Homo sapiens: one gene and its partners. The protein of the gene in region 3 purifies or fractionates together with the protein of the main gene of each other region. This does not show direct contact. Each region holds a gene or a part of one and is shown on either strand. Other genes may lie near its edges.

What was found.
Region 1: the proteins of SRPK3 (region 3) and LLPH purify together in Homo sapiens (affinity purification with mass spectrometry; 2 studies listed by BioGRID and IntAct, with this or other methods). This does not show direct contact.
Region 2: the proteins of SRPK3 (region 3) and RBM34 purify together in Homo sapiens (affinity purification with mass spectrometry; 2 studies listed by BioGRID and IntAct, with this or other methods). This does not show direct contact.

The regions. Positions count from the first base shown.
Region 1 is NC_000012.12:66,118,333-66,120,833, forward strand, and holds part of LLPH (protein LLP homolog), read right to left. Parts: 3' UTR 1-2,501. UniProt on the Homo sapiens protein: In hippocampal neurons, regulates dendritic and spine growth and synaptic transmission.
Region 2 is NC_000001.11:235,137,142-235,140,794, forward strand, and holds part of RBM34 (RNA-binding protein 34), read right to left. Parts: intron 1,034-3,653; coding exon 950-1,033; intron 800-949; coding exon 736-799; intron 1-735.
Region 3 is NC_000023.11:153,779,409-153,783,161, reverse strand, and holds the start of SRPK3 (SRSF protein kinase 3), read right to left. Parts: upstream 2,122-3,753; 5' UTR 2,076-2,121; coding exon 2,017-2,075; exon of another isoform or gene 1,947-2,016; coding exon 1,816-1,946; exon of another isoform or gene 1,658-1,815; coding exon 1,549-1,657; exon of another isoform or gene 1,420-1,548; coding exon 1,332-1,419; exon of another isoform or gene 1,042-1,331; coding exon 954-1,041; exon of another isoform or gene 391-953; coding exon 284-390; exon of another isoform or gene 210-283; coding exon 44-209; exon of another isoform or gene 1-43. UniProt on the Homo sapiens protein: Serine/arginine-rich protein-specific kinase which specifically phosphorylates its substrates at serine residues located in regions rich in arginine/serine dipeptides, known as RS domains.

The DNA of each region.
Region 1 (2,501 bases), on a different chromosome or scaffold from region 3:
AGCCTGGGCAACAAGAGTGAAACTCCGTCTCAAAAAAAAAAAAAAAAAATATACAGCAGTATACAGTCATGTCTGAGGCCTTCACATTCACTCATGGCTTACTCATTGACTCACCCCAAGCACGAGTCCTCCAAGCACTATTCATAAGTGGTACAGGTGTACCATTTTTTTATCTTTTATACTGTATTTTTACTGTACCTTTTCTATGTTTAGATACACAAATACTTCCCATTGTGATACAATTGCCTACAGTACTCAGTACAGTAACTTGCTTGACCAATTTGTAGCCTAGAAGCAATAGGCTATATCACATAGCCTAAGTGTAGTAGACGATACCCTCTAGATTTGTGTAAGTACAGTCTATGATATTCACACAATGATTAACGATATTACCTAGTGACACACTTCTCAGAACACATCCCAGTCATTTAGTGACATATGACTATATATGGGAGGATGGGCATGGGTTATATGCAAATATTTCACCAGTTTATGTAAGCGATTCGAGCATCTGTGGATTTTGGTATCTGTGAAGATCCTGGCACCAATCCCCGATAGATTCTGAAGGATAACTCTACAGTGTTTGAATCCATTTTGCTACATTCCAACCAAATGCCTGTCCACCTTAGACTGACACCTCAAGGATCCCAAGGTGCCCATTTCAGCTCCCAAAATCTTGGTTAGAAGGCGCTTCCTTAAATCAAATAAAAGTCTGTCTCTCTGTAGCTTTCCATCATAGGTATTCATTCTATACTCTGGGACAGGCGGCTTGCTCACTACTTAGCAGTTGCATGACTTTGGGTAAATTTAGTTAACCTTTCAAACTGTTTTCTCATCTGAAAATAGGGATAATTAAAGTATTGATCCCACAGTGTTTTAAAGATTAAATAATATACATAAAGCATTTAAGAGAGTACGCATTCTCTAAATGTTGGCTGTTGGGTTATTTTTACTGCTTGCCTACCAAATTAAGCTTATTTGGCAACACATTGTATTTTCTCCCCTGCTCTAAAATAACTGCAAAAGACTCTTGGCATTCAACTGCGGAAAATTTAGGGTTTTGTAAGCAGGCCCAAAAGTGGCCCTGGGCCTCCTGGCTACCTGACAGTCCTCTGGAAACAGCAGAGTGACCTTTGACCTGATGTAAGTATTTAACAGTCCCACCTCACCCCTAAACATTTCCTTGTAAAATTGGTATGTGTCTACTGCAACAGTGTTTTTATTAATACATGCAGGCAAATAGAGGGAAAAAGACATATATTTTGTGTTTAGCACAAATTTGAATCACTCTGCCAGATGGCATCAGAAGTTAGTCACTTAACTAGTAAGATTAGCCAACAGCTTAGCATCTGCATTTCTATTGTAGTATTTATAAATTTGGCAATGCCTTAGATTCCTCCCAATTTTATGTTGTGGTCAGCACTTCCCTAAATTACACATTGCTGCCCCTCACCATCACCACCAGTCCATTTCAGATATTTGATTCAAGTCATTTATAGCTATTTTTCTTCTCCAACTCTTAAGCCATATTCCAGAAACACGGATCCAAATTTTGAAAATATCTGAATTTCCTAATAAGCAAATATATACTGCTGCATCCTTATTTGATGTAGCATGTGAATTACATAGTGGGAAGAGATATCTACACTAATGTGACAGTAGAAAATAGGATGTGGTCAAAACCACTACTTGATTCTACCTTAGAGCTTCAACTGCAGTTTGCATTTCTTCTCTGATTAGTACCTTGGGCAACTACTGATCATGGCCTACACCTTCCCCTTTTGGATTGGTCAGCCCATTCCTAATGAAGTGTCACCTGAGGAAATCCAGTCTGCCTTAGGCCTAGAGATTTGAGGAGGGTTCTGTACATCATTATTCTACTTAAACCTGCTCTTTATCTGATCCTGAGCCCACATGAACCCAATCTATCACAGGTTGACCCAAAAATAGGTATTCTATCCTAAAATCACCTTTCTCTCTTAGCAAGAGTTTGCACATCCTTGAGAGGCAGAATGGCATTGTAAGAGTATAGGCTCTAGAGCCACACTGCCTAAATTTGAATCCCAGATTTCAGTTTTAGTTGTATGGCCTGTGTGCCTCAGTTTCCCCATGTGTAAACAGAGATTACATTAGTACCAAACTCAGATAACATTAGTACCAAACTCATGAGATTGCTGGGCAGATTAAATGAGTTAATACTTGAAGCAGTTTTGATCATCTTTAAATTATATTTTGATTTCAGACTTAATTTCTTAAAACACAAAAAGTGTTACATTCAATTCCTAATGTGATTTAGCTCACTCAATCTAATTCCAAAATGATTTGGTGCTTAGCTTGAGCTCCATCTTGTGGCTTTACAGCAATTCTCTGGAAAATGTCAGTCAAAAAGATGACAAATTTCAAAAAAATAAGCTAATTATTTAAAAGATAAAAGGACTATGCTATACTTCTCGATTTGTAATCTTTAAAAATAAAGTGCCAAAGATGTGACCATACCCCTG
Region 2 (3,653 bases), on a different chromosome or scaffold from region 3:
CATTGATGATAGTACTTATACAACAGTGACATGACCTGTCACTCCAACCCTAACATATACTGTCAGCTCCTAGGAAGTTGAGACTATGTCTTAGAACTGCATCTCTGACAGAGTGTGTACTAAAAACTGTCTAATGAATAATTGAACTTTCTAGACCTCGGTCTATAATGTGTTAGACCAGATGATGTCTAATGTACCTTCTGACCTAATTATGCTTATTTGAAGAGGACTATGTTTTTGTTTCTTTTTAAGAAACAGGGTCGCCCTCTGTTGCCCAGGCTAGAATGCAGTGGCACGACTACAGCTCACTGCAGCCTCAAACTCCTGGGCTCAGGTGGTGCTCCCACCTCAGCCTTCTGAGTAGCTGGGACTGTCGGCATGCATCACACACTTGACTAATTTTTTTTTTTTTTTTTGTAAAGGCAGGGTCTTGCTACATTGCTCAGGCTGCTCTTAACTCCTGGGCTCAAGTGATCCTCCCGCCTTGGCCTCCCAAAATGTTAGGATTACAGGCATGAGCCATTGTGCCCAGCCAGGACTACGTTTTTGAAGGGAATGTTGACCTCGGTCCTTGTGCCTCTCTTGCCATCAACTCTGTAACCACAGAGGACATAGGCTGTTTCCTTCTGCGCTTCCCTCACATTGCTGATTCCAGTCCCCTTCCAGGAAAAGCCTGGAAGGAAACATTTCTCTCTACAAAGCTCTCGTTCTTTAAACAAATCAAGTACTACTTACAGATGAGGTCTCAGATGCGAGATCAACTCTAATACGAAATCCATCTGCAATCTGGGCCCCATTTCTGTATTATAAATACAAAGGGAAAATGGTTGTTAAAAATGAGCACTCGATTACTAAAACATCTATGCTAAAGTGAAACCAAAGAATAAAAAAAGTACTCATACATACTTATAGGACAATTATTCTGTTCAAACCTAAGGGATAAAATTACCTTTTCAATGCTTGCGTGGCAGCACTCTCCTCCTTAAACACAACATAGGCATTAATATTTTTCTGATCAGGATGAATTTTACGTCTACACCAAAAAAAAAAAAAGAAAGAAAGAAAAGAGAGACAAGGTAAATTTCTTAGCCTCAAAGTCACTAGAAAAAAATCTAGCTGTTTTCAACTCTTAACACACATGACAAGAATTCCTGGGTGGACATTTCATCTCTTTGAATAAATATTTAGTAATAACTCAAAAAATAACACACAACTTATAAAGATATTAGTGGAGACACAACCCATACTTTCTTAGGAATCATAACCATGAGAAAACAGATGAACCATGTATATGAATCCCTGAGAACCATACAAGAACTAAAAACTGACATCTTAGCTGCAGTCCGTATCTAACACACATATAAACAGTTGTGAAAGACGTGAGTTTTCCTCTTTACTGTGAAACACCCATATAGAAGAGTGCACAAACTACGTATAGCTGAGTGAATTAACAACAGCTCAACGTGCCTTGTAGCCCACTCAGAAGCCTCTCTGTGGCCCTTTCCCGTTGCAGCCCCTCCTTCCCTCCAAAGGCAACCACCATTCCCATTTTTATAGGAACTACTTCCCTGCACATCTTTGTGGTTTTATCAACCAAGTGTCTATTCTTAGACATCATACTTTGGTCTTGTCTATACTTTTGACCTGATATGTCTTTTGAATCTTGTTTAATTTACAGAGTTTTCTCTGTATCTCTTTATCTCTCACTATTTGGCCTGCAGAATTCCCCACAGCCTGGATTTTGTGACTGCAAGCTCATCAAGTAGTTTAACACAAACCTTTGTCCTCTATATTTCTTGTAAACTGGCAGCTGCATCAAAAGGATGGATCAGACTCAGACATGACCCCTTTGTCGCGACTGCTGGTGGGTGTTGTGTTCTTTCCAGGGAGTCATGTTATGACTGGTTTTTACCCTTTTGTCAATGACTGCAGCTGCTGCTACTAAATGCCTAAACTCATTAAGTCACTAGGTTTGCAAAATGGTGATATAATTTGGATGTGAGGAGTTAGCAAAAAGGACCTAGTAATGAACACAGATCTTTCCCTGAAGACATCAACCTACTGTTTTGAAGTAAGAAAAATGCTACTACACAAATGAGTATCATCAAGAAGGGAACTGGAAAATAGTGCCTGACATGACTGATGGCATTCTGTAATAATACACTATACTAATGCTTTTGTATTGATTAAACCAGCTGTGATTTACTGAATGCCTAATATATACCAGACACTCAGCTAGACATTTTATGTATTTCATTTAATCTCACATCTCCAACACGGTGTTTTTTTTCTGATTTTATGAATAAGGAAGCTGAGACTGGAAGAGGTACGTGACTGCGATGAAATGGCAACAAGTGGCTGGCCTAGGACTGAAACCAAGTCTAGCTGACTCTAGAGCCCTGCTCTTCACACAACACACAGCTGCCGACAACATCCAAATCCAACACATCCTAGTGCACCCCCAGGAACAAATGCTGGAGTTCCGCTTCCACCTAGAATGTAAAAAGCCAGAAAGTGCATCACTCCTGCTCTTACCAGTTAAGAAGAAACCAGATAACCCACAGCATCATAACTTTTGTTGCAGCCATCACAGAGCTGAAGTCTTGGGGAAAGCCAGCAGCTAGAAGCTAAGGACAGGCCTGCTTCCTCCAATGAGAGACAGAGGAAGCACTGGCTCTTCTGGCTCTACGATGGCCGAGCACAGGGGCAAAATGCTGGGCACCAGACAAGCAGGAAAGATTCCAGCCATGATCTCACTAAAACACTAGAGCTCAGCGTGGGCTGGGCCTGAAACAGAAGTCCTGGAAGCTGCCGAGGCAGGAGTGTGCGCCCATCCTCAGGATCTGCCCCACTGACCTCCACTCCCTGGGAAAGGCTGAGATCGCAGCTATGGGTGCTGCAGGCCTGGAGGACGGAATGGCCAAAGTGTGGGAAAGGCACAAAGCCCCACCTGGATTCTTCTTGAGAGGTGACAGCGTGCTGGCAGTCCTCAGAGCCCTCGCTTGCTCTCCGCACCTCCTCTGCCTGGGCTCCCACTTTGACGGCACTTGAGGAGCCCTTCAGCCCACCGCTGCGCTGTGGGAGCCCGTTTCTGGGCTGGCCAAGGCCGGAGCCGGCTCCCTCAGCTTGCAGGGAGGTGTGGAGGGAGAGGCGCGAGTGGGAACCAGGGCTGCGCGGCGCTTGCGGGCCAGCTGGAGTTCCAGGTGGGCGTGGGCTTGGCGGGCCCCGCACTCGGAGCAGCCGGCCGGCCCTGCAGGCCCTGCCGGCCCCGGGCAGTGAGGGGCTTAGCACCCGGGCCAGTGGCTGCGGAGGATGTACTGGGTCCCCCAGCAGTGCCAACCCACTGGCGCTACGCTCGATTTCTCACCGGGCCTTAGCTGCCTTCCCGCAGGGCAGGGTTCGGGACCTGCAGCCCGCTATGCCTGAGCCTCCCACCCCCTCCATGGGCTCCTGTGCGGCCCGAGCCTCCCCGAGGAGCGCCACCCCCTGCTCCACGACGCCCAGTCCCATCGACCACCAAAGGGCTGGGGAGTGCAGGCGCACGGCATGGGATTGGCAGGCAGCTCCACCTGCAGCCCCGGTGCAGGATCCACTGGGTGAAGCCAGCTGGGCTCCCGAGTCTGGTGGGGATGTGGACAACCTTTATGTCTAGC
Region 3 (3,753 bases):
AGGCCCAGAGGCCCCGACCCAGCCCCATGTGGGCCCTTGGTACCTATGGAGCGGGAGGGGGGCGGCGCCCCTGCCTGTTGCCACTCCGTGGCCTCGGCAGCCAGGCGCCTGATGTAAGCGTCCCCCACACACAGCAAGATGTTCTCGGGCTTGATGTCCGTGTGGATGATCTTGCACTTGGTGTGGAGGTAGTCCAGGCCGTGCAGCACCTGCAGAGAGTCGCACCTGACCTCCTCCAACTCCCGCCCAGGCCAGGCTGGGCAGCCCAGTGGGTGGCACTCACCTGCCTCACGATGCTCTTCACGCAGGGCACGGGCAGGCCCTGGTAGTTGGACTTGATGATCCATTTGAGGAGCTGGTGGCCCAGCACCTCCAGCACCATGCACACATCTGGGCTGGGAGTGAAGGGCGGCCAGTGGACACCAGCTGCGGCACAGGCCCCACCCACCCTCAGCTAGGGGAGCAGCAAGGCTTGGGCCGTGTGGAGGTGGGGAGGCAGGGCCTCCCCTGGGCAGTCCTGGTCACCATTATGCTGGTGTCATCATCGATAGTGTCCCTGTCAGTCTCAACAGGTATGCCAGTTGGGATGGTGCATTTTGTGGTCATCCTAGAGGTGGCGCTGGAGGAGCAGGCACAGAGGCCTCTCGGGCCAGCCCACTCCCATGCTAGTTATGCCATAGGGCCTCTTGGCAGTCCCCCAAAGGGAAGGCAGTGCCACAGAGACAGCACCTGCCGTTTGGGGATAATAGCAACGTCCATGGACAATCAACGCTAGCTTGTTACTGCCTCCACGTAAACACAGTTACCTGGGGGCGGGGTCGTGCCAGAGGCTCCCGTTACTGGGAGGGATGCAAGCCCATTGTGCGGGTCTGCAGACAGGCTCTAGCAGCGAGGGCCCCCCCATTTGCCGGCCCTTGGCTGCCACACTGCTTTGCTCTTCCTGCAAAGGATACGGACTCCATTGACTCCTGAGATCCTGAAGTCATCAATGAGCTGGACAATGGTCTCTCTTTTGGGGTCACTGGGGTCGCTGTCCCGGACCTGGAGCAAAAGCCAAGGGGCCACAGATGGTTCCACCCTGCCCTGAAGCCCACAGCTCCCTTCAGTGTACCCTTCTCCTGCTCCAGCTGGGCCCTGCTGGAAGAAAGGCCGCCAACCCCTCCTGTCCCTCGCCTGTTCCTCCAGATCCTCCCCCTTGGGCACAGCCAGCTGGAGGCTGCCCCTCAGGGAGCCCCGCCCTGCCCCACAGAGCCCCGGCAGGCCTTGCACCCGCATTGCCAGGCCCCAGGCAGCTCCAGGGGAGCTGGGAGTGGGGTAGGGAGGTGCCTCACACATTTCAGGAGCTTGATCTCATCCACAGCTGTCTCCGTGTAATGCCCCGCACTCTTCACCACTTTGAGGGCCACAAAGCGCTTGCGCCTGCAATACCGAGACCCTTGTAGGCTGTGGCCCTGGCAGGACCCACGGCGGGGATCAGGGTGGCCCCAAGCAAGCCCAGGGACAGGATCCCAGCCAGTGCTGGGCCCCGGAGGCGAAGGAGGCACTCACTGGATGTCCCAGCAGAGCCAGACGGTGGAGAAGTGGCCCCAGCCCAGTTTGCGCACCACGTGGTACCGCCCATTGAACACGTCGCCGATCTTCACAGGGTGGTAGCCGCCTGCCCAGGGGAGATGTAGATTGGGGTGGAGGGGGTTCTCACTCCCCTGGGCCCCCGAACACCTCGGCCCCATTGACCATCTGGCCCATGTGGGCCCAGGACTGCCCTGGGTCCCTGCAGTGGCCGTGAGGCCGCATGTCCCCAAGGCCAAGTCTCACCCTTGCAGTAGTCTTTGGGGTCTTCCTGTTCCTCGTCGTCGGAGCCCAGAAGGCCCTGCAGCATCTGAGGCACCGGTGTGGCCAGGGCTAGTTCGGAGCCCGAGGACTCGGGCCCGCAGGAGGCCTGTGAGCTGCGGGTGGGGTGAGTGGCAGTGGGCATGAGAGACGCCAGGGGCTCCGGGTGCCCCAGCCGAGCCCTACCTGCTGCTACTGCCGCCGCTGCCGCCGCTGTCCCCACCACCGCCCGTGCTGGCGCTCATCCCGGCCACGCAGCCCGCAGCTCCGGTGCCCCGGGCGGCTGCTCCTGTGGGGCCCGGCCGCGGCCTGCGAATTTATAGCCTTGGCCGGCCGCTGATCTCACCCGCCTTTATAAATAGCCTCCCAGCTGCTCGGCTGTGGGCAAGGTATGCGGTGCGGGGAGGGGGCGGCGCGACGGCGGCCCCAGAGAGCCCGGCCCCCGGGCAGAGGCCCCCCTCCTGCTCCAGGCCCACCCTGGAGGCAGAGGGGGCTGCTGCTTGGGGACCAGGGGCAACTGGGCCCCCAGGCTGAGCCTCCGCACCCCAGCTGAGGGGGAGGTCCACGCGGGGGTGAAGCAGCCCGTACCCCAGGTCGGGCTCCCGTTCTCCGGTGCGGACTGTGGGGATGTGCTCCACTTGGCAACCTGGTCCTTAGGCCAAGCCCCCACCACCTGTGCCCCTGTGGGCATCCTCCTGGAGGTGCCCTTCTCATTCCCATGGGAACCCTGTCCCTGGCTGCTCCCAGCCACTTCCTGCTTCTTCTATGTTTCATCAGCCCCTAGGACAACTGGGAGTCCAGTGCCCTCTGAATGTGGCGTCACTGGGGACCCCTCATTTCCCCTACCAGAGGCAACAGGCCTGCTGAGGGGAGGCCTGGGAGCTTGCCAGCCCAGAACCTGCTCCTGCGACGCTGCCTGGCGCTCTGGCTCCCAGCGCCTGCTCTTCCTCTCCACCATTTGCAAGGTGCCTGTCGTGGGCTGCTCCATAGCCAGACATGAGGGAGGCAGCAGGAAGCTGCTCACTGCTGGGGACAAGCAAGCCCATAGCCACTTCCCCATGAGTGCGGTGGTGACTGAGGGGCCTGTGACCCAGGGGCTGCATCATGAGAGACCAGGAGAAATTGGGTCCCCAGAAGCATCCAGGGCAGCACAGGGCACAGTGGGGCAAGGCCTGCGGCCAAGACGCGTTCCAGCCCTTCACGTGCTGGCCACGGCTGCCGCATGGTTCGAGGGCGAGGACTAGAGGCCTGGTGTCTGTAGGCTTAATGTGGAGCTTGGGTGATATGGGGTTGGGGGGTGGTCACTGAGCTTCTGCTCAGCAAAAGATCACTCTGGCCACTTCAAGGACAAGGGAATGGAGAGGCGAGGGTGGAGCCGGGAGGCCAGCTGGGGCCTGACAGAGGAGTCCCAATGAAAGGGAGGGGGCTCGGCAGAGAGGGTGTTTGTCCCAAGATATTGGTGCAGTGTCCCTGTACCAGGGTCCGTGAACTGGTAGGGGTGGGCCAGGCATTGCTGGAGGGGCCAGCGAGGTCAGAGAGTGGGAGGGAAAGTGAAGCCCGGGTACCTGATGGCCTCTCTTTGTCTGTGGGTAGCAGGTTATAGGCATGGGGCTGAGGGACTCTCAGTCAGGAGAGCACTGAGTCAGCTCCTGCAGGGAACAGCAGGGGCTGGGGATTGGGCCCTTTGTCAAAAGACATTTCTGGCCAGGCGCGGTGGCTCATGCCTGTGATCCCAGCACTTTGGGAGGCTGAGGCGGGCAGATCACCTGAAGTCAGGAGTTTTGAGACCAGCCTGTCCGACATGGGGAAACCCTGTCTTTACTAAAAATACCAAAATTAGTCGGGTGTGGTGGCACACGCCTGTAGTCCCAGCTACTCGGGAGGCTGAGGCAGGAGAATTGCTTGAACTCCGGGAAAAAGAGG